Linked DNA regions of Homo sapiens: region 2 is linked to region 1. The links come from fine-mapping of genetic effects on gene expression. A gene starts in region 1. The other region holds a variant in brackets. All regions are shown on one strand. Distances are between the middles of the regions.

Region 1 (15,934 bases):
ACTGCAACCTCTACCTCCCAGGTTCAAGAGATTTCCTTGCCTCAGCCTCCCAAGTAGCTGAGATTACAGGCACACGCCACCACGCCCGGCTAATTTTTTGTATTTTAGTAGACAGGGTTTTACCATATTGGCCAAGATGGTCTCGATCGCCTGACCTCGTGATCCGCCCGCCTCAGCCTCGCAAAGTGCTGAGGTTACAGGTGTGAGCCACCATGCCCGGCCTAAACTTTTCAATTTATGGATTACTGAAGTGTTAAAGGTATTATCAATCCACAGTAAAGGCAACTGTGGCCATGGACAGGCTCTTCTGAGTAGAATACATTGTAACATTATAGTTATATTCTGTTTGGTCTCTCTAAGACTCCCAGCCATGAAATTTCTATTTTTCTGACATTTTTCCCCCATATGCCTTTTTAAAAAATCTATTTTAGACCTCAATTCTAAATCCTTTACGAGTTTTCCTGGTATCTTTCAAAATACCTCAATCTGTAACTGAAGTATATATAGCCCCTCTGCTAACATCCAACTGTTTTTCTCATTTAAAAAAAATGTTGGTTCCTACCATAAAGAACAGATGGTTCCAAGGCAAGAAAAAAATAGCAGTTGTATAAAGCAAAGAATCTTTATGGAAACAAAAGGTGTGCAATGACAGTTCTTTGACTTAAAAAAATTCCATTCTATTTTTTTTTTCTTTTGAAACAGGGTTTCACTCTGTCACTCAGGCTTGAATGCAGTGACACAATTATAGTTCATTGTAGCCTCAACCTCCCAGGCTCAAGCAATCCTCCTGCTTCAGCCTCCCAAGTAGCTGGGACACAGGTGTGCACTGGCACACCCAGCTAACTTGATTTTTTTTGTAGATACGGGGTCTCCTTTGTTTCCCAGGCTGGTCTTGAACTGCTGGGCTGAAGCGATCCTGCTGTCTTGGCCTCCCAAAATCCTGGTATTATAGGTGTGAGTCACCACACCCAGCCAAAATTCTATTTTCTTGGTTAGTAACTTATGAATGTATAAACAAAAATTGAGCAAACAAGTTTGATAAAGGTTAAATTTATGAAATTCTATATCCTGCTATTATGCTATCTTTTACTAACACACGGAAAACTTTTGAGGAATTTGTTTTATTCATAAATATTTCCGAATATTAGGAATAATTTTCTTTACATCAACTTAACTAGGACTTAACTAAAAATTATTAAATGTGTTAAAAGTATTTGTATTAAAATTACAAAACCATTTAACTTACCAACGTATCCTTTATCAGGGGCATCTGTTGATGGTGCTGCAAATTCCTATAGTAGCAAAGAAATGTTTCCTATTGAAAGAAGCTACTGAAAAATTATGAAGACAATTTAGCAATCAGTTATGGAAGGCTCTATCAAATATCAGCTTAGGGAATTGTGTCAGGGCCTCTACGGACATTGGTGCTGATCCTCACAATAGCTCTACAAGATAAGAAGGCACTACAGTACAGTGGACTACACTACAGTGCTGCTCGGCAAGATTACCTGGAGATCTTTTAAAAAATAGTAACTGGGTTTGTGCCCCCAACTACTAGCCAAGAATCTTAATTTGTTCTCCAGATGATAGAGCAAGATTTAGGAACTGCTGCTTTAGTGGTAAAGAGCAAAAGCTCAGCTGGGCGCGGTGGCTCACACCGGTAATCCCAGCACTTTGGGACACAGAGGCGGGCGGATCACCTGAGGTCAGGAGTTTGAGACCAGCCTGGCCAAGATGGCAAAACCCCGTCTCTACTAAAAATACAAAAATTAGCCAGGCATGGTGGCGGGCGCCTGTAATCCCAGCTACTTGGGAGGCTGAGGCAGGAGAATCACTTCAACCCAGGAGACGGAACTTGCAGTGAGCTGACATCGTGCCACTGCACTCCAGCCTGGGCGACAGAGCAAGACTCCGTCTCAAAAAAAAAAAAAAAAGCAAATGCTCTGCAATTACTAAGCCAGTTCAAATGTCAGAGCCATACTTACTGGCTGAGAGACTTCAGGCAAGTTATTTAACCTCTTACCTTAAACTCCTCATCTTGTCAAATGGGAAGAAAATAGTGTCTACTCCTAGGGACTGTTAATAAGGGCCAAATGAGATAGACCTGTTAAATCCCAGGCATAAAACCTGACAAGGAGCAAGTTCTCAAATCTTACTGTTATACATCACTCCAGGTTTACGAAAGAAGAATCTCAACTGAGGTTAAATAACACAGGGTATACTGTAGTCAAAGAAGCACAGGCTTTGGAGTCAGATTTATGTCTAAGTTTTACTTATGAGTCTTATGTACCTGGACAGGTTACTGAAAGTCATCTGTAAAACAGGAGGTGAAGACAAGTAACAAATGATTGTTATAGGCATTAAAGTGGATAATTCTGTAAAGCACCTAAAAAGGTGTCTGGAACATAGCAAGTACTCAGTAAATGGTAGCCAGTATTCCCTCAAATTTTTCTTTTCAACAATTTCAATTTTCTACACATTTACACAGATTACATGTCATCACTGGCTAAAAGGATGTCACCAAAAATCTGTTAATGTCTCAAATGATATAACAATTTTTTTAAAATGGTGACTCAGATTTTAAAAGTTGTTTCATTTTGCTACATTTGACAATTGTTCACTTAGTCATTAAACTTGGGTCATATTATCTAACACTCATAGTGAAAGCTCTTGGGAAATTAAACATTAAAAATTGACACCCAACTACCAAATCAAGAGTAGAATTACAGGTGTATATTACAATCTAATAAATAAAGCTAACTTTGTAACTCAAATCTCAATAGGACATATTTAGACTTACTGCTTTAACTCCACAGATTACTGTAGTATTTCCCAACTTCACTAAAGCAGAACCATCTGCGGTACTAATTGAACCTGAAAAGATAAGCAAAATGAAAGGTTCATAAAAGGAAAACAGCTACAAAATTATCCACATAATAATTAAAATTAAGTGTTTTAGTTTGCTGTGTACGATTATCTTGCTACCCCTCTCAGTTGCTTATGAATATTTCAAGTTAGAATAATTGATTTTTACATAACTATTTTAAATTAGTGTTTAAATAATTATTCACCTGTCCTTGAATTTGTGTTAATCATTTTTCATTTAGTTACAGGGCTTTTGTACGGATAAAAATCTCTTGACAAAAAAAATCATCAAATCCTTTAGACAAAGAATTTGGGTGAAAAACTGTTTGGCTGGTTCATAGACTAAAACTTGGGAATATCATACAGTTGAAAGTGGAAAATACATCCTTACCGATGTTGACAGTTGTGGTTCTGAATTCACCAAGTTCTCTTCCATCAGGACGGCAGTTCTCTTTCTAAATAAATATGTTTATATAAAAATAGATTATACCTATTACATATTTTACACATCTATCACAAGTTTTACACACACATTAAATGTTACTTCAAATGGATTAATTTAAATTACTTGAAATTCATCTTTAAAAGCAGCTCGTTATCAAAACGCATAACATGTACATAACCTTTACTCACCAGAAATCTCCTGTAATACTCCAGAGGTTCCACGGTTCTGAAACACGTGTTAAAAATATATCTGAGATAAACTGATGAATCTTAACATAAATCCAGAAATTGGCAAAGATCTTAAGTGTGGTGATGCAGCATAAATCTCCACAACTTTTTAACTAAAAGTAATTCTAGAAAGTAAAAATCCTTGTAGTAGCAATCACATTCAATTGCTGTCCTTAACTCTGCCATAAACGATTAGAAGATTGGCGTCTAAAAGCCCTTTGAGTGAGCTCTTTAAAAGCTCAATCTGTGTCAAAAGAATCATGTCGTTCTTGCTCTGAAACAAGGATTCAGAGTGATCTAGTGATCATGAAAAAAGATTATTTTAATAATCTAGTGATCATGAATAGTTAACCTCTTACTAGATAACTCAGGAAACAAAAAGGTACATCTTTATTTTCACTGTAAGTGAAATTTAGCATATTCTTCAATTATGACTGTAAGCAATAAGCCATAGTAACATTAGCAGTACCTGCAACTTTAACAACCACGGAGACCACAGATGTTTTCGTTTGCACCCTTTAGCTGTGTAAGGTATGTTCAGGCTCACCGTTACTTTGAAATCCCAGGAGTTACTACTAGTCTCGCCACTAGATCTTGTTTACGAAGGTTAATTTTAAACCAAGTATATATACTACTATATCGTGTCTTCGGAGTTTATACTCATAGATAACTATTTCAACATAATGGATTTCCTTTGGAATCCTATTTATTTTATCCATTTTTTAAAAACTTTAAGAAAGTCCACTGGCTTCACACACACAAAAACCTTCCAAACGAGGCATGATCCTTTTAGAAATAAATTACGGGAGAGGGAGAAGCAGGCGGTATGTGGTTCTGATGCAACAATCTTGATTGATTGATTCTGACAGAGTCTCACTCTGTCGCCCAGGCTGGAGTGCAGTGGCGCGATCTCGGCTCACTACAACCTCTGCCTCCCGGGTTCAAGCGATTCTCCTGCCTCAGCCTCCTGAGTAGCTGGGACTACAGGCGCCCGCCACCACGCCCGGCTAATTTTTATATTTTTATTAGAGACAGTGTTTCACCATGTACACCAGGCTGGTCTCGAACTCCTGACGTCAGGTGATCCGCCCGCCTCGTCCTCCAAAGTGCTGGGATTACAGGCGTGAACCGCCGCGCCCGGCCACAATCTTTAAAAGATTACAACTATGTCTCCTGGGACTGCACGTTCACTACACACCACGCTCACGAGCGCTCGCAGCGGGTATGGAACTCTACAGAGTCCTTTCATCTCCCGTCTCACTGAGGAAGAAGCCCTTTCTTTTCACTGTGACAACCTCCAGGTCCTCCCGCCCATCGTCTGCCTCGACGAGGAAGGAAATGGCACCCCAACGGGGTCGGCCTCCAGGTGAGAGAATCCCAGCTAAGAGTTAAAGGAAGCTGCCGTCCGCCAGGGTACAGAACTCTACCCGCCACCCGCCAACACTCACTTGAACCCAGCCGCCATCTTCCCGCCCGCGCGTCTGCGCCTGCGCCGCTCCTCTCCTGCGCGCCTGTTCCGCCGCCGCACTTTCGACACGGATGCCGGGGCCGCTCACGCCACGGGAAATGCCAAGGTGGGGACGCGACGAAAGGTCCCTGGCCCGCCCTCGCATCGACTTTCCCCTGCCCAGACGCCTTTCTAGGTTTCCTTGCCTTGGACGTATTTTGACGAATCTGCTGTTAAAGAAGGAGCGGGTCTCCCTCTTTATAAAAGAGCTGGTGCTGTGACTCAGAATAACACCAACAGTTCGGAGATAACAGGGTTTCTAGCGCAGAATCAAGCAGTGCGTGTGGAGCGTTATTCCAATGTTTCTGCGTCTTTTTTCTGCCTGTGACTTAGGCTCAGCCCTGGCCTTGCCTCTTCACTGGTCAAGGGCTCCGTGCTCCAACACATGAGAAACCTGAACTTTTTTTTTTTTTTTTTTTGAGACAGAGTCTCGCTCTGTCGTCCAGGCTGGAGTGCAGTGGCGCGATCTCGGCTCACTGCAAGCTCCGCCTCCCGGGTTCACGCCATTCTCCTGCCTCAGCCTCCCGAGTAGCTGGAACTACAGACGCCCGCCACCGCGCCCCGCTAATTTTTTGTATTTTTAGTACAGACGGGGTTTCACCGTGTTAGCCAGGATGGTCTCGATCTCCTGACCTTGTGATCCGCCCGCCTCGTCCTCCCAAAGTGCTGGGATTACAGGCGTGAGCCACGGCGCTCGGCCGAGAAACCTGAACTTTCTGTGCGCTCATTGTCCGCACCACGTTCTGCTCTGCAGGTCCCGGAGCTGAGGGCTCCTAAGCATCACCTTGTGTTGTAGACTGTGTCGTGCTCAAGGCTGCCATCTCCCTCCTAGGTGGGGTTACCAGATAAAATACAGGATACCACGTTAAATTTGAATGTCTGATAAACACAGCGTGGTTTTTTTGTTTTTTGTTTTTGTTTTTTTGTGGGTTTTTTTTTTTTTAAAGCATGAGTATGCCCCAAATAGAGCATGCAATTAGTTGTTGCCAGAACCTGGAGGGAGCTGGGAAGGCTTTACAGATAGATAGTGGTGATGGTTGCACAGTATGTATGTAATTAATGCCACTCACTATTGTAAACTTAAAATGATTAAAATGGCAACTTTTTATTTTACCACAGTTTATAAAAACTAATGTAATAAACCAGAAACCTGTAACTGGATGAGTCGTATGGTATGTGGCTATCTTAATAAGGCTGTTAAAAACATGATTAGTTTTTTAATCTGAAATTCAAATTAAGTAGACGTCTTGCATACTTGATAAACCTGGCGCCCCGCTGTGGAACCTAGCGCTCCTCTCCACCGACTGGGCGCCGAGGGCACGAGAGCGGCGTTTTCTCCGCCTCGCCACGCGGGGGCGCTGCGGCCAGCGGGCGCGACCTCTCTGGCGGCGGGGCCGGGTCGCGCGGGCGCGCTTCCGCCTGTGTGGAGGTGCGGGATTGGGCGGGCTGCCACGGCATGGAGAATGGCTCCGCTTCTGTTGCAGCTGGCGGTGCTCGGCGCGGCGCTGGCGGCCGCAGCCCTCGTACTGGTGAGAACAGGGATGGGAACCCGCGCAGGCCGGGGCTTACCGCTCTCCTGGAGACTGCGGCTCCTCAGGCGTCCCCTCCTCCGCGCTACCAGTTCTCGGAGAAGTCCCTTTTCCCCTAGATTCCCCCAAATTCCTGACCTCGGAGTTTCCTGGAGTTTCACTCTCCTTTTCTTCGGTTCTTTAATTTTCCCTTGGAATCTTATCTCTTTGTGTGCTCAGAGACTTGTAAGTTTTTTCACACTGGAGCGCACCCACCCGGCCTGGCATCATCGCCGCTTCCATCGCCCCTGGCGCCCGCGCCCCCTACCCACCTCCTCTGTCAACCTCGACCTCTCCCAGACTCTCCGGGACCTGCAGCCGCTGCAGTTCTGCTCCACCCAGGGAGGTCTCGAGCCCCCAGAAGGGGTGTGCTCCCTAGCCTGCTCCCTTGGCTGATGTGGTTAAGCAAATAGGGGTGACGGAGCCTTGACGGCAGCCATCTGTTACAAATGGGAATAAATGCGTGGATCGATGAGACCCACTAGGGACGCAGGGTGAGCGAGAGAGACAGGCCTCAGGCGCCTTGTCCGGGGTCGCATTGTGTCCCAGAATTAAGCACCCTAAATATACTGCCCCTAAACAAGGCAGGACGATAGAATGCAAACTCGATTGTCTTTGCCCTTGCTCTCGAAACACAAAAACATTGTAAACACTTGCTGATTGTTAAGTGGTAGAAAATTGGCGAACTCTCTCCCGCACACCTTGGAATGAGCCTGCCCTCTAGTTAGTAAGTGGAGAGGATTTCAGCTTCCTTGACATTCAGATTAGCCACCTAGACAGCACTGCCAGGAAGGCCACTCTGCCATCTTTCCAGAGGTTGTATAAATTTACAGTTTAGATAAAATGTAATGCATCCTTACTTCTTTGTTGATAGTATCTGGGTGAGAGAGGAGTCCTCTCTTGCCCTAACTAGTAGAGATTTCAGGGTTTAGGGCTTTTTTGTTTTTTCAAGTTTTTGAGCAAACCAGGATTGATTGATTGATTGATTGATTTTTGGCGGGGTGCGGGCGGGGAGTGGATTCACACATTCTTAGATTGAAGCTGCCTTACTTTGGGTCTTTTGCACAGATTTTATGGGATTGTACTGACGGTATTTGTTCCCACTAGCTTGAAGTGATAAGAGCTACCATTTATTGATTGTAGTACTTACTATATGTTGTGTTGCACTTGGTTTAATAGGAGTTATTAAATCTTTAACACTGTGACATATATGTTATCATTAGCATTATTTTACTGGTGAGGAAACATGTTGGAGAAATGAGCTCGTGTACTCAAATGTTGCACAACTAGTGAAACTTAGGTTTTTTAAATGCCAGAGCAAGAAATCATTAAAAAAATAATTTTTCAAAACCTCATCCTGTCTTCATATGTATCCACTCTCCATTACTCACAGTCTCACCTCCTTTCTGAATTATTTTAAAACAACTCGAAGACATTTTATCTTTAAATCCTCAGCATTTATTTCTAACAGATAAGGTCCTTCTTTTTAAAATACCACAATAAAGTGGTCACAGATTTAAATTTATTCTGTGATTTCAAATGCCCCCTCAGTTCACTTGCCCTCACTTGTCTCATATATGTCTCAGTATATATGTCTGTTTGTTCCAATCAGGATCCAAACAAGTGCCACACATTGTACTCTGTTGATGTCTTGAGTCTCTTAATCAGTTGACAGTTTCTCCTCCCCCTTTTTTTCTTTTCCTTGTCTTTTTTTTTTTTTTTTTTTTTTGAGACGGAGTCTGGCTCTTGTCACCCAGGCTGGAGTGCAGTGGTGTGATCTTGGCTCACTGCAACCTCTGCCCTCAAGCAATTCTCCTGCCTCAGCCTCCTGAGTAGCTGGGATTACAGGCGCCTACCACCACTCCCGGTTAATTTTTGTACTTTTAATAGAGATGGGGTTTCGCCATGTTGGCCAGGCTGGTCTCGAACTCCTGAACTCAGGTGATCCACCCTCCTCGGCCTCCCAAACTTCTGGGATTACAGACATGAGCCACCGCGCCCGGCCTTTTTCCTTGTCTTTAATATGATCATTTGTCCTGTAGAACTTCTCACAATTTGGATTTCTTTGATTGCATCCCCTTAATGCCTTTTAACATCTTCTATCTCAAATTTTCTATAAACTGGTAGTTAGGATGGAGAGACCTGATCACATACATACTCGATGTGTTTTTTAATCAAGAAAAAATTGTGAGTGATGCTTCTTCCTTTCTCTTGTGTCTCATCAGGAGTCATGTAATGGCCATTTGTCTCTGGTGTTAAGATGGATCTGTGGTTTCAAATGTTGCCAGCCAGACCCACCAGTTTATAAAGTTTGTCATCAGCCTAATGGTTTTAGTAGTCATTGAGGATCATTACCTAAATGCTTTATTTCATTGCGGGTTGCAAAGTGAAATATTCTCATTGTATCCTTCATTTATTACCTAGAGTTTTGTAATGAAAGAAATCTCATCCTCAGCTATTCATTTACCCTAAAATACCTTTCATACATATAAAACGCAAAAGGCAAATTTTTGAAATGAGATCCTTCCTGCATCTTACCCAGTTTTTGTCTTTAGTATCATTGCAAATTTATGATTTACAGTATTTTTCATGGTTTGATCCATTGCAGTAATTTTTTTTGGCAGGGGGGAAGTGGGAGGACGATCAGATTCTTGCATCATAGGCCACTGAGAGCCCATTCAGGTTGACTACTTTGTCCTTTCAGCACAGCCCTTATAATCTTTGATAATCTTTGATTATAATCTTATAATCTCTGAAGTGATAGTAGTTGATGATGGCAGTAAAGATCAGACCTCAAAGATCAAACCTCAGGAGCTGATGACAATGACAATTTGATAATGTCTTCAAATTGATCATTAAATTACAAATGAATAGCATTCCAAAAATTTAAAGACTGTTTTGAAAGCAGAAAGTGTACCAATAGAAACAATGTAAAAACAATGGTTATTTCCAAAGCTTAGCTCCCAAGTGCATATGGAAGGGAGCCTGTAAGTTAGATACTTCAGTAAATGCTGTATTCTGAATTCAAATTCGAGTTAAGTGTCAAAAACATATTCTTAAACATTGTTGGTCCCTACTTGGTAGTCTGGGGAATCTTCCTTTTATATCTTGGGTCTGTCTGGTCCTGGATGGAAAGTGTGCCCTCACCCCGCATGTTCCAACTGCAAAATGGACTTGTCCTGTCACATATAGATTCCAAGTAGCGATAGGACCTTACTATATGTGTGTGTGTCTCTATGCATGTAGACACGCTAAGGATCAGGGTTTTAGGGCACCTGAGAGTAGACTGGTCTTCCTGTAGTGACTGACCTTTATTGTAGCTGGGATGGTGGAGGCCTGGCGAATGATGACTGGGAAGAGACAGAGCCTCCTAAGGCATCAGCACCTTACTGATGGAAAAAAGGACAGTAATTCGTTCATAAGTAGGGGACTCACTATTGTCTAATTTTGGAGTCACCTCTAGACCATTGTTAATGAACTAAAACCTGAGAGTGAGTATTCAACTAAAAGAAAAGTAGATGATGTATTCTAACATAAATACAGAAAAGTCAGCAAAACATAATTTCTGTTTTGTAAAAGACATGTATGTCTGCTTTTAGATTTCCATCGTTGCATTTACAACTGCTACAAAAATGCCAGCACTCCATCGACATGAAGAAGAGAAATTCTTCTTAAATGCCAAAGGCCAGAAAGAAACTTTACCCAGCATATGGGACTCACCTACCAAACAACTTTCTGTCGTTGTGCCTTCATACAATGAAGAAAAACGGTGTAAGCCCTGTTTTGATTTTTTTGGTAAAGGGTAGTTTGGAAAAGAAAAGGAAATTTAAAGTATTTGACTTCACTGTCTTTGCCAAAACATTAATAGATGTGGGCTGTGTTGAGCACACAGTTGATAATTGTTGTAGTTCGGCAGAGAGGGAAGTGAATATTTGCTCTCATGAATAGGAGCAGCATCATGAGGCAGCGGGACTGGAATGTTCTAGAGAGGTAATAAGCACATTGTGGACAGAAGGCAGGATTTCAGATGGGAATGACCATTGGGAAAGTACCAGAGGGGCTTGTTAGATTATTGGGACTTTTTTCTGTATGTAAGCTGAATGTGCCGGGCTTGGAAAATCATTTTCAAAAGTGATTTTTAATATATTTTTTTCTTCAAGTGCCTGTGATGATGGATGAAGCTCTGAGCTATCTAGAGAAGAGACAGGTATCATGTTTTCTCTTTTAATATGATATCTCCAATTAAAACTAGACCAGGTCACCAATTGTGGACCCCAAGCCAGATGCACTGTGAGAGGCAGTCCTGGCAGCACCCCGATCGCTGGGCCACCTGCTGCTTGCTTGTTGCTATCCATAAGCCCGGCACGTAGCATGCTACCTCCAGAGGCAGGTCGTTGACCCAGGACAAACCAGGAAGCGAAAATTTCTGTTTCTGTACCCTCCTACCCATTTTAATCCTGTCTTGCTTGATGATATATTTAAAATTGAGTGACAGTGTATGTCTGCAGACTTTGTATGATGCCACAATGCTGTTTTTACTTTTGTGACTTGTAAGAAAAGGTGTATTGTTGCTGTTTTTGCTGTTAACTTTTATTCTCTTCTCTCTTTTTTTATTTTTTGGTTAACTGGGTTTGAATAAACAGAAAAACTAAGTCTGAATGAACAGAAAAAAGATATTTTTAAAAGACACACTTACATTGAAATTATTTTGTATTTCTTCAATATTCTCAAGAGTCTCCCCTCACATTTTCTTCCTGTTTTCCCTACATAAGGAGAAGAGAAGTAATACACAACCTTCTTTTGTAACATTAGCTGCCATTGGAATCCCCTTGGAGGGATTAAGAATTAAGTGAGTTCTTTTTAAAAAAAAATTGTTTTGATTTACTTTGCTTTTAGATTTTTTGTATAAAGGGGAAATAGAAGATTCACTGAAAGAGAAAGGGCTGTATTACCTTATTACCAACTTCAAACATTCAATTTAGAGAAAAGAAGAAAGGAATTGAGCCTTTAATATGTATGAGGCTTCTACCTCTTCAATTACGTGTAATCTTCACACCAGCCACATAGAGTAGGTTTTTCTGTTCTCTTTTTTTAATCAGAAAATAGGCCCAAAAAGTTAAGTTGCCCAAGGTCATTAGGCTAAGAAATGCTGCAGCCAAGCTGGAATCTGCCCTCTCTGACTTCAAACCTCAGGAGCTTTTTTCTTACACACCTGTACCCTCTCAAATGTGCTATAGCACCACAAGTACCTGGCTTCTTCCACCACCAAGGTACAGGGCAGACTGGGGAACAGCAAGGTGACATGGAGAGATTGAGTCAATATTCACTCTCCACCTCTACCCAGGATCTCTCTCTCTCTTTTTACTTAGCCTTTTTATTTTATGCGGTTTGTGCACTAATATTTATATTCAAATTTATATGTATCAACACTAAAGCAGTTGTTTTTTAAATTACTGGTGATTTGATTAGAATACTTTATGGCAGTTATGCCAAATTGTATTACTTTATTTTTGTTTCTTGCAGAAACGAGATCCTGCGTTCACTTATGAAGTGATAGTAGTTGATGATGGCAGTAAAGATCAGACCTCAAAGGTAAATACACTTGCTTTTAGAATTGACAATAGTTAGAAAATAGAGAATAATTTTGCACATGTGAAATCTCACTTTCATTCACCAGGGGACCCTAAAGCTGTGCCTAACACTCTCCATTGTTATAGTCTAGATAGCAGAAAAAACAGATTTCATTTATGGAACTTCTCCATAAGACCAGGGAAGCTTTGAAGATCGCCAGATAGGGAAGAAACATGCCCGCGCACAGTTCCTCCTGGCCTTTAGGGTAGGAACCTTCGTTGCCTACCAATTTGTGCTTCCTTTTTCCCTAAGCACAGTTTCTTTATGCTCCATCTTGCCTTATAATTTCTAAAGCAGTCACGCCAATAGAAAGCTGCTTTCGTACCAGCCCCTGGGAAGCAGGTGTGTCCTTTCACATGCACAGAGAGCATTGGCAGGATCTGGCTTAGGAAGGGTAAGTGCTGCACTTTGAATAGTATGATGTGAAAGTTATGAACACAAGCCATCTCAGCAGTTTAGTGATACATGAAGGGAATGGCATGGAAAGCCACATTGGACACTTGCTGTTGAGATTATAGAGGTAGCCTAGACCCAGCTGAGGCTGTGCATCTTCTCCTGAGGAGCACTTTTTTGGTGGCCCTTGACCTGTGAGTGGCCAGCTGCTCTGCTGGAAGGATCAGGGATGCCCTCCCAGGGAGGACAAGCAAGGGAGGGGTTAGCAATTGGCCCCACTGCTCCCAAGGTTGGGAGGAAGTAGAAAGTTGAAATTATATTTAGTAGAAGTTTTTATTTAAAACAAACCAGTTTTCGCTAAGTTAAGTATTTATAGATTCCCTGTTAATGTCTTACAGTCTGAGGGGTGTGAGGAAAATTTTAGATACGGCTCTTGTTCTTGAGGCGTTTCAGACCAAGGGGGCACAAGGTATAGTACAAGAGAATACTGCAGTTGTACAGTGATGTTTATTATATCCTCAAACAACATACCAAAAAGGCGAGTAGGCACTCAGTAGGAACTCAGTTCACAAATGGTGGCCGAGTGACAGCTGCTGCCCTGTATACTAAAGGCCATGCTGTAAAGCTTCATTGTGCATCCATTCCAAACAGTTGTGGCTTTAACAATGTTATATTCCTTGAAGCTAGATACCATACTCTAGAGGGAGCTTTTCATCCTAACATAGTAAAGTCTTATTAGTTCACTTAGCTACTTATATAATGACTTTATCTTCTTGGTTTTGCAGTCTCAAGTATTGTGCCATTCCAGAGTAAACATCTACAGCACAAATAACTGTTCTTTGAACACATTTCTTCAGCTGTTAAGCAGAAGTCGAGAGTTCTGACTGGCACTAAAATACAAAGATGTAAAGACCACTTTCTACCTTGAAGGAGTTCACATCTATTAATAATACTGGAAATATGCATCAAATAATTAGAGCACTATGTGTTAGACATTTTTATCAATTAGGAACTATATCATAGAGTGGCTTAGATAATAAAGACGTTTAATTATCTCATCTGCCAGGAAGTCTAGAAATAGTTGATTCCAGAGTTGGCTTAGCATTTAAACAGGATCAGGTTGCTAGATCCATATCATTTTCAGTCTCACGCATTCCTTCATCACAAAATGGCCACAGCTGCAAATATTACATGTCCTGGAGTAGTAAGGGACAGCCAGGACTTTAAGAATCATCTCTGGGCTGGGCATGGTGGTTCATGCCCGTAATCCCAACACTTTGGGAGGCCAAGGTGGGAGGGTGGGAGGACTGCTTGAGCGCAAGAGTTCAAGGTTACAGTGAGCTGTGATCGCACGACTGAACTCCAGCCTGGGTAGCAGAGCAAGACCCTGTGTCAAAAAAAAAGAATCATCTCTGCGTGCATCTCTCCTTTTTAACTAGGAACGAAAATCTTTATCAGAAGTCCTCACCCCTCCCTCTACTAAAGCCCACACCCAAAGTTCACAAGCTAGAACTTAGTGACATGACCACCAAAGCCTGCAGGGAGGCTGCAAAAGTACTCAGCAAAGAGGAGTTAGACCAATCATGGTTCATCCCCTAGGGCTTCACAGTTGTCACTGCATTATTGGGGCCATAACAGCAAAGAAGGAGGCACTGTTTGCTGGTTTGGCAGCTAGTTAACAGTGCTACAACAGGACCATGGCTGCATTTGCTGGTTGAAACTGATAGATTTCAGCTATGTGCCAGATACCAGAAATAAAAATCTTTGCCTTTAAGTAGCTGACATTTACAGTTGCATTGTGATGAGTAAAGTAATAGTTGAATGAGAAAATGCTTCAGTAGTACACATTGCTATTAGAATTATACTTTTCTTTTTCCCGGGGGAAGGTGGGGATGGGCATGGAGGCTAGAAAAGAGAAATGGTGTTTGGCTGAGTCTTAAGCTGGCCTGACAGGTGAGGAAGCTGGAAGACAGTGTTCTGAGAAAAGGCATACAAGTGTAAGACCGTGGTATGGTCTGGAAATCTCAAATACTGCTAATGTTCACGGTACTAATGGGGCAGCCTCAGAAGCTGGCTAAAAAGGTGAAGGCTGAATCACAAAGGATCTCCTATGCTATGATAAGGAACTCATATGTGATGCTTAGAAGCCATAAGTCATCACTGAGGGTGTTTGAACAGGGCTTATGTGAACTGATTTCCATATTAGAAAGGCTACTCGTATAACTTTAGGAATGAATTAGGGAGTCAGGGTAGAGATGTGGGGACTTTAGGGGATAAGGCCCTGAACTAGGTCAGGAAGGTGTGAGGATAGCATGGATTTGAGAGGGATTTTACAAATCAGTCAGTGAGTTATAGTAGCCAGTGAATTGTAATGGGTGATAGAAATGGAAGATGATTCTCAGGTTTTCAATTTGAGCAACTTAGTAGATGATGATGCCATTTGCTGCAGCAAGGAATGTAGACTGAGCAGAAGTTGGGAGGAGGAGATGAATGAAATTCTGGAGTTTTTATTTATCCAATATATAACTAGGTGACACAGGAGAGAAGAGTCTGGGCTCTAAACAGACGTGAGATTCATAAATATAAGCTATAATTAAGCCCATGCAGTGACTCCCAGTGAGCTTTTATGTTGAGAAGAGAAGATGGCCAGGGGTTTCCCATTAGCTGTATGTACAGTGTAGAGTCAGTCCTTGTGTGGATTATCAGCATTTAAGGAGCAAGCCAAGCAAAAGGAGTTATTGGTGAAAACTTGGGAACAGTAGAGGAGGGCAAAGGCCAGATGAGAGCAACTTTACAGCTGCCTGTAGAGATGGTTGTCAAAGGAGAGGGTACCTGATGGGCTAAGGTTACAAGGAAACGGGATGTGGAAGAGCAAAGGGCATGAGCCCTACTACAGTGGACCGAAAAATAAATGGGTGATGAAATGCAGGTGGCAAATATAGATCACTATCTCACGACTTTGATTATAAAGCAGAGTAATGGCCGTAGCTTGAGAAAATAGTGAAGTCAAAGGAAAGTTTTTAGGATGCTGGCAGCTTGAGCAAGTCTGAGGCTGTGGAGCCAGCAGAGAGGAAGAGATTGAAGATTTAGAAGAGAATTTACTGCTGAGAGAGAGGAATTTGAGTGAAAAGATTCGGGAGAAATGGTCAGGATACAAACAGCCTCTCTGGGGAATAAGAGCGATTGCAGACCAGAACAAATACAAAAGTCATTAACCAGTGTTAAGGGCCCAATCATAAGTTTGTACCAGTCAGATAGCACATGGCTTTTGTGGGGTTTTTTTGTTGTTTTTTGTTGT
Region 2 (15,934 bases), 40 kb before region 1:
CTAAATAAGATTTGATGACATGATTTGTTAAATCTGTAAGTAGGTAGGTTTTATTTTAAATTATAAGCATTTTTAAAATCATGGACTTTGTTGTGGTTTTTAAGGAGCTGTTGAATTGGATTTATAGAAAATGTCCAAATTGCTTACTTCGTCTTACCAATTAGATATTTTTAGGTTCAACATTTCAGCTTAGAGCTGTTGAACTTGTTTGTATCTTATTTAGCCTATAAAATATTTAAGAAATGTGCACTTCTTAGATACAACCAAAGAGAATGCCCCAAATTCTTTAGGTTAGACTTCTACTTAGTGGAAACTGTATGCTTCTGTGTTTTATATATTTGCATTTAATGGTTTTATATACTACTTATTTAAATATTTTTATTTCTTAAGTATTCAAAAGTACTTGTTTTATATTTAAGTGCTTTTATTGTGTTATAGGTCACCCATTTTTAAAATATGAATTAATTTGCATAAAACATAGTAGTAAATAAAAATTAAGTTTACATAGCTGTCCCATACGTAGTGGCTATAGTTTTGTGAGCCTTCTCCATTTATTCAGAATCATAATGCAGAAAGAGCACCAAAAGGTTAATTCAAGCCTGATTTTGTTAAATCATAGCATTATTTGTTAAGGTTATACTGGATTATTTTCATGAGCTCTGCCTCTTTTTAAAGCAGAAATTAAGAAGAAATGTGAACTTGTTAGAGAAGCTTGTTATGCAAGAGACTTTGTCATGTTTAGTGGTCAATCTATACCCAGGAAATGAGGGATATTCTCTGATGCTCAGGGGAAAAAACGGATCAGGTAAGACCCTCTAGAGCACAGCTGCCACAAAATACTTTTGCTAGGCAGGATGTGCGGTTTTTTTAAAGTAGTTTTTTAACCTGCTAAAGCATTTGTCCTTCAGATAGTGATGACCTAGTGATAAAAACAGATTTTGATCCCAGTTTTCTTCCTTATGATATGTTTTGGTAGAATATTAGAAATTATCTCTCTTACAATTATCTTTCCTGAATGTGCATTTTAGAAGTATTCTAATTGATATGTCTTTCAAGTCCAATTATAAAAGCATCTCAGAACCAAAGGAAAGGTTAAAAAAAAAAGGAAAATTATAGAGGCATAACTTACAGATGATTAAAATAGAATTTCCTTTCATTCTATTGCTATTTATATTTTAAGATAGCATACCGTGTTTAAAGGTAGGTAGTCCTGCAGTTTGAACATGAGTCTGAAATCTTCAAAATTAAGCAGACTCACTGCCTTTTGAGTAATTTTCACATATTAAAATATTTCTATTAATACTGAATATGAACATTTCTGTTAATGGTGAATATGAAAATAATTTAAAAATAGAAACACTTCAGTTTCATTAAAGAGGTGTAAAAATTTAATATGATGATAATGTGAATTCTACAAGGAACTCACATAGCTGGAATTTTGTGTGTGTGTTGGTAATTAATTGTAAAGTGTAACACCAAGAGAATTTTGTTCTAAAAGTGACCACTTTTCAGATAAGGCACCAAATTGTCCCTCTGATTTCCAGATTAGATTAATTGGTCTTCAGTGAACTTTCAGTTACTTTGACATTGGAATTTTATCATATTCTGATTATTTTGCTTTGGGCTGTGGTTCAGATTGTGACGTTATGCCAGATGTTTTTTCATAATGTGTTAGGTTTTTTTTTTCCCCCTTAAGAAGGACATTAGGAGGGCCTTTTGGTTTTGTTTTTTATTTTTATTTTTTTTGATCCTTGCTTGGTTGAAATGCCTTTTGGTTTTATTATATATAGTTCTTTGAAAAGCCATTTGAATTATACAGCTAAGCTTTCAGTGAGCATGATCATTTTCAAACTTCATGTTTTAAATTAAGATTCCGAGACCATTCGACTGCCCTATGAAGAAGGAGAGTTGCTTGAATATTTGGATGCAGAAGAATTACCTCCTATTTTGGTTGATCTCCTAGAAAAATCTCAGGTACAAAATTTTTGTCTTTAAAATGTCTTTATATTTGTTATATGTATATGATATATATATGTCACATTTTTATGTATGTATACATATATGTATATAAACGACTACATGATGTTTCATGACAGATGATATTTAATTTCTATCACTGTTCCCAACAGCCTTTAGAACATGAAATCAGGCTGGGCTTTGGTGGCTCATGATGCCTGTAATCCCAGCACTTTGGGAGGCTAAGGCAGGAGGATCACTTGAGCCCAGGAGTTTGAGCTCACTACAGTCTCAAACCCCTGGGCTCAAGTGATCCTCCTGTACCACTGCAGGATTAGAGAAGGAAGGATTAGAGAAGGAAGAGGAAAACCAGAATTGCAGTGATTGCACCACTGCACTCCAGCGTGGGTGATAGAGCAAGACCCTGTCTCTAAAACTAATAATAATAGAAGATGAAATGAGACATATATAGCTATCTGGAAATGGGCTTATTGTCGGATATTTAACCTTTAGGGTATACTGAAACGTAGAGACGTAGTTCTTCTAAAATAGTTAGAACAATTAGCTCATCAATTGGAAATCTCCCTATAGTTACAATCAAGAAATTATGAAAGAAACTACTTTGAATATTTATGAAGTTTTTCACTTGGGGGCCAGAAACTGGCCTTTACATCTGTACTTCTGTTCATAGCTTGCCTAGGTAAGCACTCCCTTGCCCTGTTCTACTTTCTTCTTACTGCCTTAACTTAACCCCAGCCATACTGTGTACTCTACTGAGGAAAAAGAAGACATCACATGAGAACTCTCGTTTCCTCCTAGCACCAGTCGACTAGCATCCCTACCTCTCTCTTCATATCTGCCTGCCTTCCCGTTAAAATAGTTGATGTATACTGTTTATAGACATCCATCCCCTCCACTTGTTTTCTGGATCCTCCCCTTCCTTCTCAAGGACTTAAAATTATAACCTCTCTTTTTTTCTATTTCTCTTTCTCTATTAAATGCAGAATGCAAGCATACTGTGTTACAGGTTGAGCATCTCAAATCTGAAAATTTGAAATCCACAGTGTTCCAAAATCTGAGCACTGACTGACACTTAAAAGAAATGCTAATTGGAACATTTCCGATTTCAGGTTTTTTGATTAGGGCTGCTTAACCTAAGTATAATGCAAATATTTCCAACTCTGAAATGCTTCTGGTCTGAAGCACTTCAGATAAAGGATTCTTAACCTGTATGTCTCAAATTTTAAAAAAATCCTCCCTTGACCTCATATCCTTCTCCAACTACTGCTCTTGTTACTCTTGACAGCCACGCTACTCAAAGAATTTATAGTCATTTCCTCTTTTGCAGATCCCATTCTTTCCACCACCTATCTCATTTGGCATCATGACATCGTTCTGCAGAGGCTGCATTTGTCAGAGTTACCAGTGATCTTCATATACTGAATAATTGGTCACTTTTCTGTTCTCTTCTTAATTGGCCTCTTAGCAAAGATCAGTGGATATAACTGCGTCCTGCTTGAAATGCCTTTCTGTTGACTTCTGAGACATCATTTTCCTGGTTTTCCTCTGCTTTCTCTAATCCTTCGGTCTTTTTTACTATAATCCCTGTTCCATCCATAAACATGTGTGTTTTCAGGTTCAGTCCTTGGCTCTCTGTTTTTCTTTAGTAATATTCTCCCTGAATGATTTCAGCCAGTTTCATGGGTTTTTAAAATGTTACTTAGTCTATTGCTTATATGCCTCACCATGGCCATTCCACCAAGCTCCTAACTTACATATTTTCTTGGATATATAATAGGTTCCTCAAATTTAACATGACAAAAACAGAGCTTTATTTTACCTCCCAAACCAGTTTTATCACCAGTCTCTTCAGTCTAACAGATGACTCTGTCCTTACCTTCCACATTCAGTCCATCAGCAAATGCCAGTCTCTCTTTAAGATACATGATCGTGCCCAGTGCTCTGAACAAAACCTTTGCTTTCCTGTTTGTCTTCATCTTCTAGATCTCATCCTCACTCGCTGCATTCCATCCATCCTTGTCTCATTTCCACAATAAAACACTCCAAGCTTGTTCCTACAGTAAGAACTTCTCATATGTTATTCCCTCTGTCTGGAATGATCTGTCCCTGAAGTGTCTGGCCGTTTCTTGTGATTCAGATCTTAGGTAAAACCTAAGGTTTCTATCTGCACATACAATCCAGATTAGCCCTTCCCTATTTGATTTCCTTTATAGAATTCATCACTATCTAAAATTACTTTGTTCTGTTTACATGTTTATTGCCTGTCTTCCCACAACTGAGAGCAAATGTTGTCTGACTACTGTATCTGTGAAGCTGTACCTGGATAGTGCCTAGCACATAGTAGGCATTGTAGTTGCTCAGTAAATATTTATTTAAAAGAATGACAATAAGAATGACAAAACATGGAGACCACAGTACCCACTAAAAGTTCTGAATGGGTGAAAAACATACTATGAGTGACCATGGCAAGTCATAACTAGCAAGACTTCGATGATAATAGTTCTTACATTTGAGCATAGAAAGGACTGAAAAACTATTTTTCTTTTTTTTTTTTTTTGAGGTGGAGTCTCGTTCTGTCACCCAGGCTGGAATGCAGTGGCCCAATCTCGGCTCACTGCAAGCCCCACCGCCTGGGTTCATGCCATTCTCCTGCCTCAGCCTCCTGAGTAGCTGGGACTACAGGCGCTCGCCACCACACCCAGCTAATTTTTTTGTATTTTTAGTAGAGACGCAGTTTCACCATGTTAGCCAGGATGGTCTCGATCTCCTGACCTTGTGATCCACCCGCCTCGGCCTCCCAAAGCTGGGATTACAGGCATGAGCTACTGCACCCAGCCTGAAAAACTATTTTTCATTTGAATTTTATATTTAGCTTCCCTCTTATTAATAAAGGCTAAGGGCAAAATTATATTTCTGAAAATTTTAGCAGAGCAAATATAGAAGTTATATCTAGAAGCTAAAACACTGGCAAGGTTGGTTGGCAATTTATAACAATGATAAACTTTATAGTAATGACAAAGTTAGTGAAATGTAACAGTAAGCCTGTGAGCTGCAGAAGAACAGCAGTTCCAAGGATCTGTAACATAATAGTATGTAAATGCCAAAAGTCAAACTGTTGACTTGGTAGATGCCAAAGTCAATCTATAATTAGAAACTATTAAATAGTTTTAAATTGCTTCTTGTGTCATAGTGATGAACATGAAATACTTCCTCTGAAAAGGTTTACATAGTGTTAAATCTACCAAGGAAATCTACTGAAGAGTACATACATGAGTGGCCAGAAATGTTGCATGAATGTAAAGAATGCGAAATGTTTGATATAAACCCACTTATTTAGGCTTTTGGAAAAAAAAATGACGTTTACGTATTTTTGCCCAAACAGGTTAATATTTTTCATTGCGGATGTGTCATAGCAGAAATACGTGACTACAGGCAGTCCAGTAACATGAAATCTCCTGGTTACCAAAGTCGGCACATTCTCTTACGTCCAACAATGCAGGTAAGGATGTTTAATTAAGAAATACTATTTTAGATTTTAGTTGGGAGTTTTATTTATCGAATTCTTCATATGTTTGTGCATAGATTAATAAGTTTTTTAAATTTTTATTTCTTCTAGACTTTAATTTGTGATGTACATTCAATAACAAGTGATAACCACAAATGGACCCAGGTTAGTTGTTTTGTTTTTTAATCTCAAACAGGCAAAATATAGGATGAAAAAAAATTATCATTAAGCAAAAGTGATTTTCTGCTTATTTTTATTCAATAATTAAGTTTGATGCTTTATGTGAAAAGCTGGTATTCCTTTATAAGATCTAGAAGTTAAGGGTCTCTTTATATGTGTAGTAATCCCTCAAGTTGCCTAAGATCATTTTAAGGTCAAGCTGGCCTAATATATTCAATGAGATAAAACTTAGTTCTTTATCTCCTCTCAAACAGAAGAAAAATGTTTTGTTTTTACCATGGTTACAAATAGATACTGGTTTTTTTTTTCAAATAATTCAAGTTTCTAAACCCTAGCCTAGCCTATCTTTCTTTGCCATTTATACTGGTTGCCTTGAAATGAGGGGAACTCTCTTACCCCTGAGAATAACCAGTTAACCCCTCCAGTTCTGGCTCAGTGTTATATGAGGGGACTTCAGAAAGTTTGTGGAAAACTGGAATTAAAAGATAATAATAAAAAATATAAACTTTTCTTCTCAATATAAGCTCCATCAAGTTCAAGATGCTTGTAAATGATATCAACCATTTATTTAGTCCACCCCTGAAGAACTGAGGGTCCTGGGAACTGAACCATATCAATGCAATCTTTTCTACATTATTAACTGAAGAAAAATGGGTACTTTTTAAACTTTTTTTTTTTAAGATTAGGAAACAAAAAGAAGTCAGAAGGAGCCAAATCTGGACTGTAAGGTGCATACCTAATGGTTTCCCATCAAAACTCTTACAAAATTTCTCTTTTTTGATGAGAGGAATGAGTAGAGGCATTGTGGTGCAGAAGTCTCTAGTGAAGCTTTCCCAGGCATTTTTCTGCCGAAGCTTTGGCTAACTTTCTCAAAACACTCATAATAAGCACGTTATCATTCTTTGTTCCTTCAGAAAGTCAACAAGCAAAATGTCTTGAGCATCCCAGAAAACTGTTTCCATGATCTTTGCTCTTCATCTGTCTGCTTTTGCTTTGACTGAATCACTTCTGCCTCTTGGTGGCCATTGCCTTAATTGTGCTTTACTATCTTCAGGATTATACTGGAAAGAATGCTTTAGTATCTTGGTCCTACTTGTTGAAAATTTCTATTGAAAGCTCTGCTTTTGCAGCTGATCGGGATGCAGTGGTTTTGGTACCCATCGAGTGGAAAGTTTACTCAACTTTAATTTTTCAGTCAAAATTATTCAGGCTGAACCAGTTGAGAGGCCTATAGTGTTGGCAATTGTTTCTGCTGTTAATCATTGGTCCTCTTCAGTTAGGTTACAAACAAAATGAATTTTTTTCCTCGTAAATTGATGTGGAAGATCTGCTGCTGCAGGCTTCGTCTTCAACATAGTCTTGTCCCTTCTTAAAACAAGTTACCCATTTGTAAACTGCTGCTTTCTTTGAGGCATTCTTCTCATAAACTTTTCAAAAAGCATCAGTGATTTCACAATTCTTCCACTCAAGCTTCACCATCAATTTGATGTTTGTTCTTGCTTCAGTTTTAGCAGAATTCCTGTTGCTCTGGTAAAGGCTGTTTTCAAACTGATGTCTTATCCTTCTTAGTGTTTCAAACTAGGTTCTGTTCAGACATGTTATAACAGCTTAGTACATGTTTATTTTGGTGCAAAAAGTTTTGAAACCTATGTATAGTTTTTTCTTAATACTCATTTTTCATAAACTTTTTAAAGACCCCTTGTATATGAGATGTCCACTCACAAAAGTGTTCAGTTGCCTGACTATAGTGAGGAATAATTACTAAGTCAAAAGAAAATATCAGTAATGGTAGTTATCCTTTCTGTGACATGTGATTATAAACTAAGCTTCAGTTCATCAGTAACTACCAAGTATTGTGTTTTGGTTTGGGCTATAATGTTGTCATCTACAAAAAGATTAAAAGCTATTAAAAGAATATTAGAAAACAGAAAAACTCATTGGTTACCATCAGAGTTTGCTAGGGCATCAGATTCTTACTCTGAAGATTGATAAAGGAGAGAATATAATATTTATCCTGCCCTTCTTGTTATGAACTGTATTTTAGGCAGCCAAGTAACTGAGGGAAAATTCTTAGGAAAATTTCCAGCTAATAGGTGCAAAAGAAATGATAGACTTTTAAAAAATAAAAGTTTGAAAGTCTTAATGAAGTAGTGAATCTAGACAGCAGTATTTCTTGGATGTGAAAACCATTAGATGATAGGTTAATGGGAAATTTTATAATGTAGAAATCTGATCAAACCCACTGATTGAAGATGAGACAGTCAATTATTGTGTACCTCCTGGTTTGATGCAAGAGACAGTACACAACAGTAGTAATAGTACCAATAAAGAACTCTTGTCCAAAAAAAAAAAAAAGAGCCCATATTAAATCAAGCCACTAGTTGTAACTAGCAGTTTATAGGAATTCAGTGAATAAAATAAACTCTTAAGTGACACAATGAGGAAGAAACCAGCCAGATCTAGTTAATGGACATGAGAAAGCAACTGGTTAATTCTAACAAATTCTTATTTAGCAATATTATTAATTGATTCACTTTTTTAAAAAAAATAGCCTTAGTTATCAAGATATTTCAGAGGTTAAGCAAAATAATAGGATTCAGTAAAATATGTTATGTGATAATAGTAAAGAGCCTGTATGTTTGGAATTGGGTATATAGAGTTCACACAATATTAGCAGAGTCATTTTTATTCTTGTAATGTAGTTGAGTTGAGTATAGGATAGGACTGTTACTTCACAGTTACTGAAAAATGCCATAACCCTTTATGACCCTATAGGTTTTGTGAGAGCAGAGGGTTTTGTTTTGCTCACTACCTTATCCCCAGTTCCTGGAAAGGTGCCTAACACATCATAGGTGCTCAGATAGTTTCTTGAATTAATGAGTAGCCACTCTTACAACCTGACCATTCCGTGCTCTACAAATTATAGTCATACCTCGGAGTTACTGTGGGTTTGATTCCAGAGCACTGCCGTAAAGCAAATACTGCAATAAAGCAAGTCACATGAACTTTTTGGTTTCCTAGTCTATAAAAAGGTTACATTTACACTATATAGTTGACCTTGAACAACACAGAGGTTAGGGGCAGTGGCCCTTGTGCAGTCAAAAACCCATGTATAACTTCTGACTCCTCTAATACTTAACTACTAATACCTACTGTTGGCTGGGAAGCCTTACTGGATTTTTTTTTTTTTTTTTT[G/TG]AGGCAGAGTCAGGTTGCAACTCAGGTTGCAGTGCATTGGCACAATCTCAGCTCACTGCAATCTCTGCCTCCTAGGCTCAAGTGATCCTCCCACCTCGGCCTCCTGAGTAGCTGGGACTATAGGTGCATGCCACCATGCCCAGCTAATTTTTTTTTATTTTTGGTAGAGACAGGATTTCACTGTGTTGCCCAGGCTGATCTCGAACTCCTGAGCTCAAGCGTTCTGCCCGCCTCGGACTCCCAAAGTACTGGGATTACAGATGTGAGCCACCATGCCTGGCGATTAACATGTATTTTGTATGTTATGTGTATTGTGCTCTGTATTCTTAGAATTAACTGTTAGAAAGAAAAGAAAACATTATTAAGAAAATCCTAAGAGAAAATATGTTTACTATTCAGTAAGTATATCATATTAAAGGTCTTCATCCTCATCATCTTCACATTGAGTAGGCCAAGGAGGAGGAAGAGGAAAAGTTCATCTTGCTGTCTCAGGGGTGCAAAGAGATAAAGAAGATGGAAGGGGAGGCAGAAGAGGCATGCACACTCAGTGTAACTTGTATTGAAAAAAATCTCCTAGCTGGTCGCAGTGGCTCACACCTGTAATTCCAGCACTTTGGGAGGCTGAGGCGGGTGGATCATGAGGGCAGGAGATCGAGACCATCCCGGCCAACATGGTGAAACCCCGTCTCTAAAAATACAGAAATTAGCTGGACATGGTGGCGTGCGCTTGTAGTCCCAGCTACTCAGGAAGCTGAGGCAGGAGAACTGTTTGAACCTAGGAGGTGGAGGTTGCGGTGAGCTGAGATCGCACCACTGCACTCCAACCTGGCGACAGAGCAAGACTCCGTCTCAAAGAAAAAAAAAAAACTCCAGTTTAAGTGGACCTGCATAGTTCAAATCCATGTTGTTCAGGAGTCAACTGTACTGTAGTCTATTAAGGGTGCCATAGCATTATGTTTAAAAAAAAATCTATATACATTAATTCAAAAATACTTTATTGCTAAAAAATGCTAATGATCATCTGAACCTTTAGGGAGTCATAATCTTTTTGCTTCTGGAAGGTATTGCCTGGATATTAATGACTGCTGACAGATCAGGATCTGACAGATTGAGATGGCAGTGGCAGTTTTTTGAAAGACAACAGTGAAGTTTGCCCCATTGATTGTTTCTTTCATGAAAGAGTTCTCTATAGCATGTGATACAGTTTTACCCTACAGTAGAACTTCTTTCAGAATTGGAGTTAGTCCTCTAAAACCCTGTTGCTGCTGCATTATCAACTAAGTTTATGTAGTAGTATAAATATTACGTTGTCATTTCAACAATGTTCACAGCCAAGAATAGAGTCTATCTCAAGAAACCACTTTTGCCAGGTGCCATGGCTTGTGCCTGTAATCCCAGCACTTTTGGGAGGCCGAAGCAGGCGGATCACAAGGTCAGCAGTTCGAGACCAGCCTGGCCAATACGGTGAAACCCTGTCTCTACTAAAAATACAAAAATTAGCTGGGCATGGTGGCAGTTGCCTGTAATCCCAGCTACTCGGGAGGCTTAGGCCGAGTAGCAATTCAAGAATTGCTTGAACCCAGGAGGTGAAGGTTGCAGTGAGCCTGGATCACGCCATTGCACTCTAGCCTGGGCGACAGAGGGAGACTCTGACTCAAAAAAAAAAAAAACACTGTATATGGTCATCCATAAGAAGCAACTCATCCATTCAAGTTTGATCATGAGATTATAGTGGTTCAGTCACATCTTCAGGCTCTCTACTTCTAATTGTAGTTCTCTTGCTATCACCACATCTGCAGTGATTTCTTGTCCTGAAGTCTTGAACCCCTTGGAGTCATCCATGAAGGTTGGAATCAACTTCTCCCAAACTCATATTAATGTTTCTATTTTGACCTCCTCCCATGAATCATGCATGTTCTTAGTGTCATCTACAATGGCACATCCTTTCCAGAAAGTTTTTAATTTACTTTGCCCAGATCCATCAGAGGAATCACTATCTATGGCAGCTAAAGCCTTACAAAATACATTTTTTAAATATTAAGACTTGAAAGTCAAAATTAGTCCTTGATCCATAGGCTGCAGAGTGGATATTGTGTTGGCAGCTATGAAAACATTAATCCCCTTGTACATCTCCATCAGAGCTCTTGGGTGACAAGGCCATTGTTAATGAGCAGTAATATTTTTGAAAGAATCTTTTTTTTCTGAGCAGTAGGTCTCTACAGTGGCCTTAAAATATTCAGTAAAACATGCAGTAAACAGATGTGCTGTCATCCAGGCTTTGTTGTTTCATTTATAGAGCACTGATAGAGTAGTAATTCTTAAGGATTGTAGGATTTTCAGAATGGTCAAATAAGCATTGGCTTCAGCATCAAGTCATCAGCTGCATTAACCCCCAACAAGAGAGTCAGCCTGTTCTTTGAAGCTTTGAAGCCAGACATTGACTTCTCTCTAGCTATGAAAGTTCTGGATGGCATATTCTTCTAATATAAGGCTGTCTTGTTTAATTTGAAAATCTGTTGTTTAAGGTAACCACCTTCATCAGTTATCTTAGATCTTCTGCATAACTTGTTGCAGTTTGTATATCAGTACTTGGCTGCCTCACCTTGCACTTTTGTGTTATGGAGACAGCTTCTACTCTTAACCCTCATGAACCAGTTTTCTGCTTCAAACTTTTCTTCTGCAGCTTCCTCACGTCTCTCACATCATAGAATTGAAAAGAGTTGGAATTTGCTCTGGATTAGGCTTTGGCTTAAGGAAATGTTGCAACTAGTTTGATCTTCTATCCAGACCATTAAAACTTCCTCTGTATCAGCAATAAGGCTGTTTTGCATTTTTATCTGTTATGGATATTCACTGGAGTAGCACTTTTAATTTCCTTTATGAACTTTTCCTTTACATTCACCACTTAGCTAACTGTCTGGTACCATAGGCCTAGCTTTTGGCCTGTTGTAGCTGTTTATAGGCCTTTCTCACTAAGCTTAATCATTTCTAGCTTTGGATTTAAAATGAGAGATGTGTGACTCTTCCTTTCAGTTGAACACTAAGAGGCCATTTTTTGCCTAATTTAAATATTATAATGTTTCTAGAAGTAAGAAGTCCTGAGAAGAAGGAGAAAGATAGGGGAGATCCCACACTGGGGAGTGGTGGATCGGTGAAGCTGTCAGAGAACATACATCATTTCTTGATTTAGTACACATTGAATATCACAGATCACCATAATAGATTTAATAATAATGAAAAAGTTTGAGATACAAAAAAAATTACCAAAATGTGACACAGACACAAAATAAGTGTGTGCTGTTGGGAAAATGATGCTGATAGCCTTGCTTAGTGCAAAATTGCCACAGATCTTCAATATGTAAAAAGTGCAATATTTGCGAACCACAATAAAATGAGGTATACCTGCATTGAATTTCCATTAGAAGTTTCTTTATGCTGTCTGGTTTCTAAAAGTTTACATGCACACTAACATTGGAACTTGAAATACCATATTTTACTGTAGTCCTTAGCAGAATTCCAGGGAATATTTCTAGATTAAGTGCAATATATGATTACATATTTGAAAATCTTAAATCTGGTATTGACATATGCTCTTACACATTTCAGGAAGACAAACTTTTGCTTGAGAGCCAGCTCATCCTAGCTACAGCTGAACCACTCTGTCTTGATCCTTCTATAGCAGTCACCTGCACTGCAAACAGACTGCTCTATAACAAGCAAAAGATGAACACTCGCCCAATGAAACGGTAATTGCCTTTGTGGAAGGGTGAACCAAAAGACACAAGTAGCTATAAATTTTGCTATTTATAGTATCTTTTCCCTCCAGGGTATGGTTGCTCCGATTTTGGTGGGGAAGGGTAGAGATGAGGTCTCTCTTTGTTGCCCAGGCTAGTCTCAAACTCTTGGCCTCAAGTGATCCTCCCACTTTGGCTTCCCAAACAGCTGGGAATATAAGCATGACCAACTGCACCAGCCTCTGATTTTTTTTTTTCTTTTTGAAAATAGGATTCTTAATGGTCTCATATTATATATTTTTATATAGTATTATTATTTTTTTAAATGCTCTATGCTTTAGATTGAACTGTTGCATTTTCTGCAGTCTTTTAAAGAATAAACTTTTTCTAAGTTTATAGTCTGTTTGCCAAAAAGGTAAAGAGGCTGAGATCAAATATGAACAGAAAGAATAATTTTTTCATTATTTTCCTACTAATGAATGACTGATTTAATTGTTGTTAATCCTACTTTAAGGAAAGAATTTGTAATTTTGAGATTTGAGAAAATATGATCATAGTTTTTAGAAGTCAGTTATAAACTGAATCCAGGCACACCTACCTTTTGTTTTTGAAACAAACCAAGCTTATTCCTCCCTCGGCATCTTTTAAAAATGTCCCTTCAAATAGTCATTCCCTGATCTTTCAGAATATTTTCTTTTCCCCACCCTCCATGGGAAACATGAGGGGATTTTTCCCCGGTAGTCACTGTGAGAACCTCTTTGAGCTCCTGGAGATAAAACCCCCAAAAGTCTGGGGGCTCCCAGTGACTAGGTCCCCTTGGAGTTTTGAATCTCTCAGACATGTCCACAGTAGGCCTCCAGCAATTCATCAGTTATACTTGAGGTTCCCTACCCTGGCACTGGTTCCTGAGGAGGTTTCTGCTAATGGGTTTCTGCTTCAGCAAGGCATGATGGTCTGCATTTGCCTATTGGTTTCTCCAAGTTTGGGGCAGTGGTTTGTCTTGTGACCACATCTCTTTGATGGATCTAAGAAGAATCGTTGATTTTTCTGTTTATTCAGCTTTTTACCTGTTAGGATGAGGTGGCAACTTCCGGAGTCTTACATGCCTGTACCCAAAACTGGAAGTTATCCCCTTCACTCCCATCTTTCCATAGCTAATTCCTTCTCATCATTCCTATCTCAGCTCACATGTCATTTTTTCAGACTCTTTTCCTCCCCTCCCTCTCCCCATTCCTTCCCTAATGTTGCCCTCCTTATCCCATACTCTCCACAGTACTCTTTTGCTTCTCTTACTGCTTCTTGGTGTCTGAAATCTGAAATTATTTTATCTGTTTACTTGTGAATGTCTCCTCCCCCTCTGGACTTGATAGCTCTGTGGTGATGGGAATTTTGTTTGTCCTATTCATTTTTATTTCACCTAGTCCTAGTTCCTAGGACTGTGCTTGGCATGTGGCAGTGTTCTATAAACACGATTTGTACATATTCAGCACTGACTAGTTTCAACTCACATATATTATGAGTTTCTTTTATTAGTGCCGTTTAGTTCAAATTTCTTAATATTTCAGGTGTTTCAAGAGGTATTCCAGATCCTCTCTGAATCGGCAGCAAGATCTATCTCATTGTCCACCTCCTCCTCAGCTGAGGTTACTTGATTTCTTACAAAAAAGAAAGGAAAGAAAAGCAGGTCAGCATTATGACCTCAAAATTTCTAAGGCAGGAAATGTAAGTATATATATTTTAAATGAAGCTTATTATGCCCAAAAGCCTGTCTTATTTAGCATTTTCAGTATATTTATATTGTTTTTAATTTTTCAGTATATTGTTTTTAATTTTTCAGTGTGTAGATATGTGGAAACGGAGTCCCTGTAATTTGGCCATACCTTCTGAAGTAGATGTAAGTCAGTTCATGAATTACTTTTTTTCATATAAAGTTTCTCAGTTTTACTATTCGGTTGCTTATACCTTGAGAAAACAAAAAAAAAACTTACTTTAAAAACAAAGTGATTTAGATCATACTCTAAACAAGTTTTTTAAAAACAATATGATTTATTTCAAAAAACATCGAAAAATGATTTTTAGAAGCTGTGTATTGTTCTTTTTTCACATTAAGTTGAAAGAACATAACCCCTTAATATAGTTTTTTGGAGCAGGAATAGTAAAACAATTTTAAAATTGGAAAAATACAGTGTATATTACATAATCACGTGAAATCTCTCTTTTTTTGATAATATTTCATCAAAATTTCCTAATAGTGCTTGTTTACTCAAACTGGTTAAATTTGAAGATTAATAATATTATTTGACATAAAATAAAATAAAGATTAATAATACTAGAGAAGTAACCAAGATTAGGAACATTGGGTTGTATTCTTTATTGATCCATAATATACATGAACTATAAATGGTTGAAGACAAAAAAGGGATATTTTGATGAGTGATCCTATGTTTTTCTTTCTCCTCTGTTGTTTTTTATATTCACTCAACTCTTTATTTTCAGATTTGTTCTTCTGTTGCACCCTTTCCATGCTAGCACATGCATTATTCTTACTATTTCTGATTTAAAAAAAAGAAATTACGCAAAGCACAAAGCCAGAAGCAGCAGTAGACTGTATATACAGCTCAAGGAAGTAAGCCATATTATCTTTTGGTAGCTTATGTGCAGTTCTTCAAGGAACATGGCCTGATAATAGAATTTCAGTGTAAATACTGAAGGGTGGAATTTAGCTTTGGAGGACAAGCTGGAGTACTTCCCAAACTTTAATGTCCTTACGAATCAGCTGGAGAGCTTGTTAAATTGTAGGTTGCTACTCAGCAAGTCTGAGGTGCTAAGATGCATTTCTCACAAGCTCCTAGGTTATGTGATGCTGGGGTCCATGGACCACACATTGAGTAGCAGTTGCCCTCAAAGCTTCTCAGTCTAGCTCAATCAGAAGAATCACCTAGGATATCAGTTAAACATAGAGATTTCAAGCCCTACTCAAAATCTACTTACTTAGGATTTCTAAGGGACAGACATGAAAATCTGTATTTTTAATAGGTGCTCCAGGTAAGTCTAAATTACTCTTAAGATCGTGGTTGCCTGTAAGATAATAACATTTGACTCACACAGATGCCTAGGACATGTACAGAATATATGGTCAAGTCTGACTAGAAAGTGGAAAACGTTCAAAAAATTTGATCAGCTTTAATATTTTACCTTCCCTAGTCTCCCTCAGTTTTGTCCCCACTGTTACATGACCGCTTTTATTTCAAGAAAAGCCTGCCAAAAGGAAAAGATCTTTATCCTTATCTCTCTGACATTCCAATTTTCCTGAAGGAAAAGCTCTAAAGGAAAAACATATCAG

Direction of the effects. Alleles are on the strand shown, and positions count from the first base shown. SD is a standard deviation of normalised expression in the study named.
In carriers of allele G in region 2, the expression in neutrophils of the gene that starts at base 5,022 in region 1 tends to be higher than with TG alone (large effect, 1.0 SD a copy in BLUEPRINT).

The links. PIP is the estimated chance that this variant, and not a neighbour inherited with it, causes the effect.
Region 2: its variant is fine-mapped to the expression of EXOSC8 in neutrophils (BLUEPRINT, PIP 0.95).

The regions. Positions count from the first base shown.
Region 1 is chr13:36,989,874-37,005,807 of GRCh38, reverse strand. EXOSC8 (exosome component 8) reads right to left here and starts at 5,022. Exons shown (of 11, transcript NM_181503.3): 1 at 4,986-5,022; 2 at 3,499-3,535; 3 at 3,257-3,320; 4 at 2,801-2,874; 5 at 1,247-1,292. The coding sequence starts at 5,002. It overlaps ALG5 (ALG5 dolichyl-phosphate beta-glucosyltransferase), which reads left to right and starts at 6,468. Exons shown (of 10, transcript NM_013338.5): 1 at 6,468-6,573; 2 at 10,212-10,383; 3 at 10,773-10,819; 4 at 12,136-12,204. The coding sequence starts at 6,508. RefSeq lists enhancers at 4,453-4,512, 4,733-4,992, 5,193-5,282, 5,743-5,792 and a silencer at 6,253-6,552.
Region 2 is chr13:37,030,118-37,046,051 of GRCh38, reverse strand. It overlaps SUPT20H (SPT20 homolog, SAGA complex component), which reads left to right. Exons shown (of 26, transcript NM_001014286.3): 6 at 679-805; 7 at 1,871-1,974; 8 at 5,360-5,476; 9 at 5,594-5,647; 10 at 12,464-12,603; 11 at 14,157-14,313; 12 at 14,429-14,485. Among named protein-coding and RNA genes, the nearest start is that of SUPT20H, 22 kb to the left of the region's middle. The variant G/TG (reference allele first, on the strand shown) is at 8,858.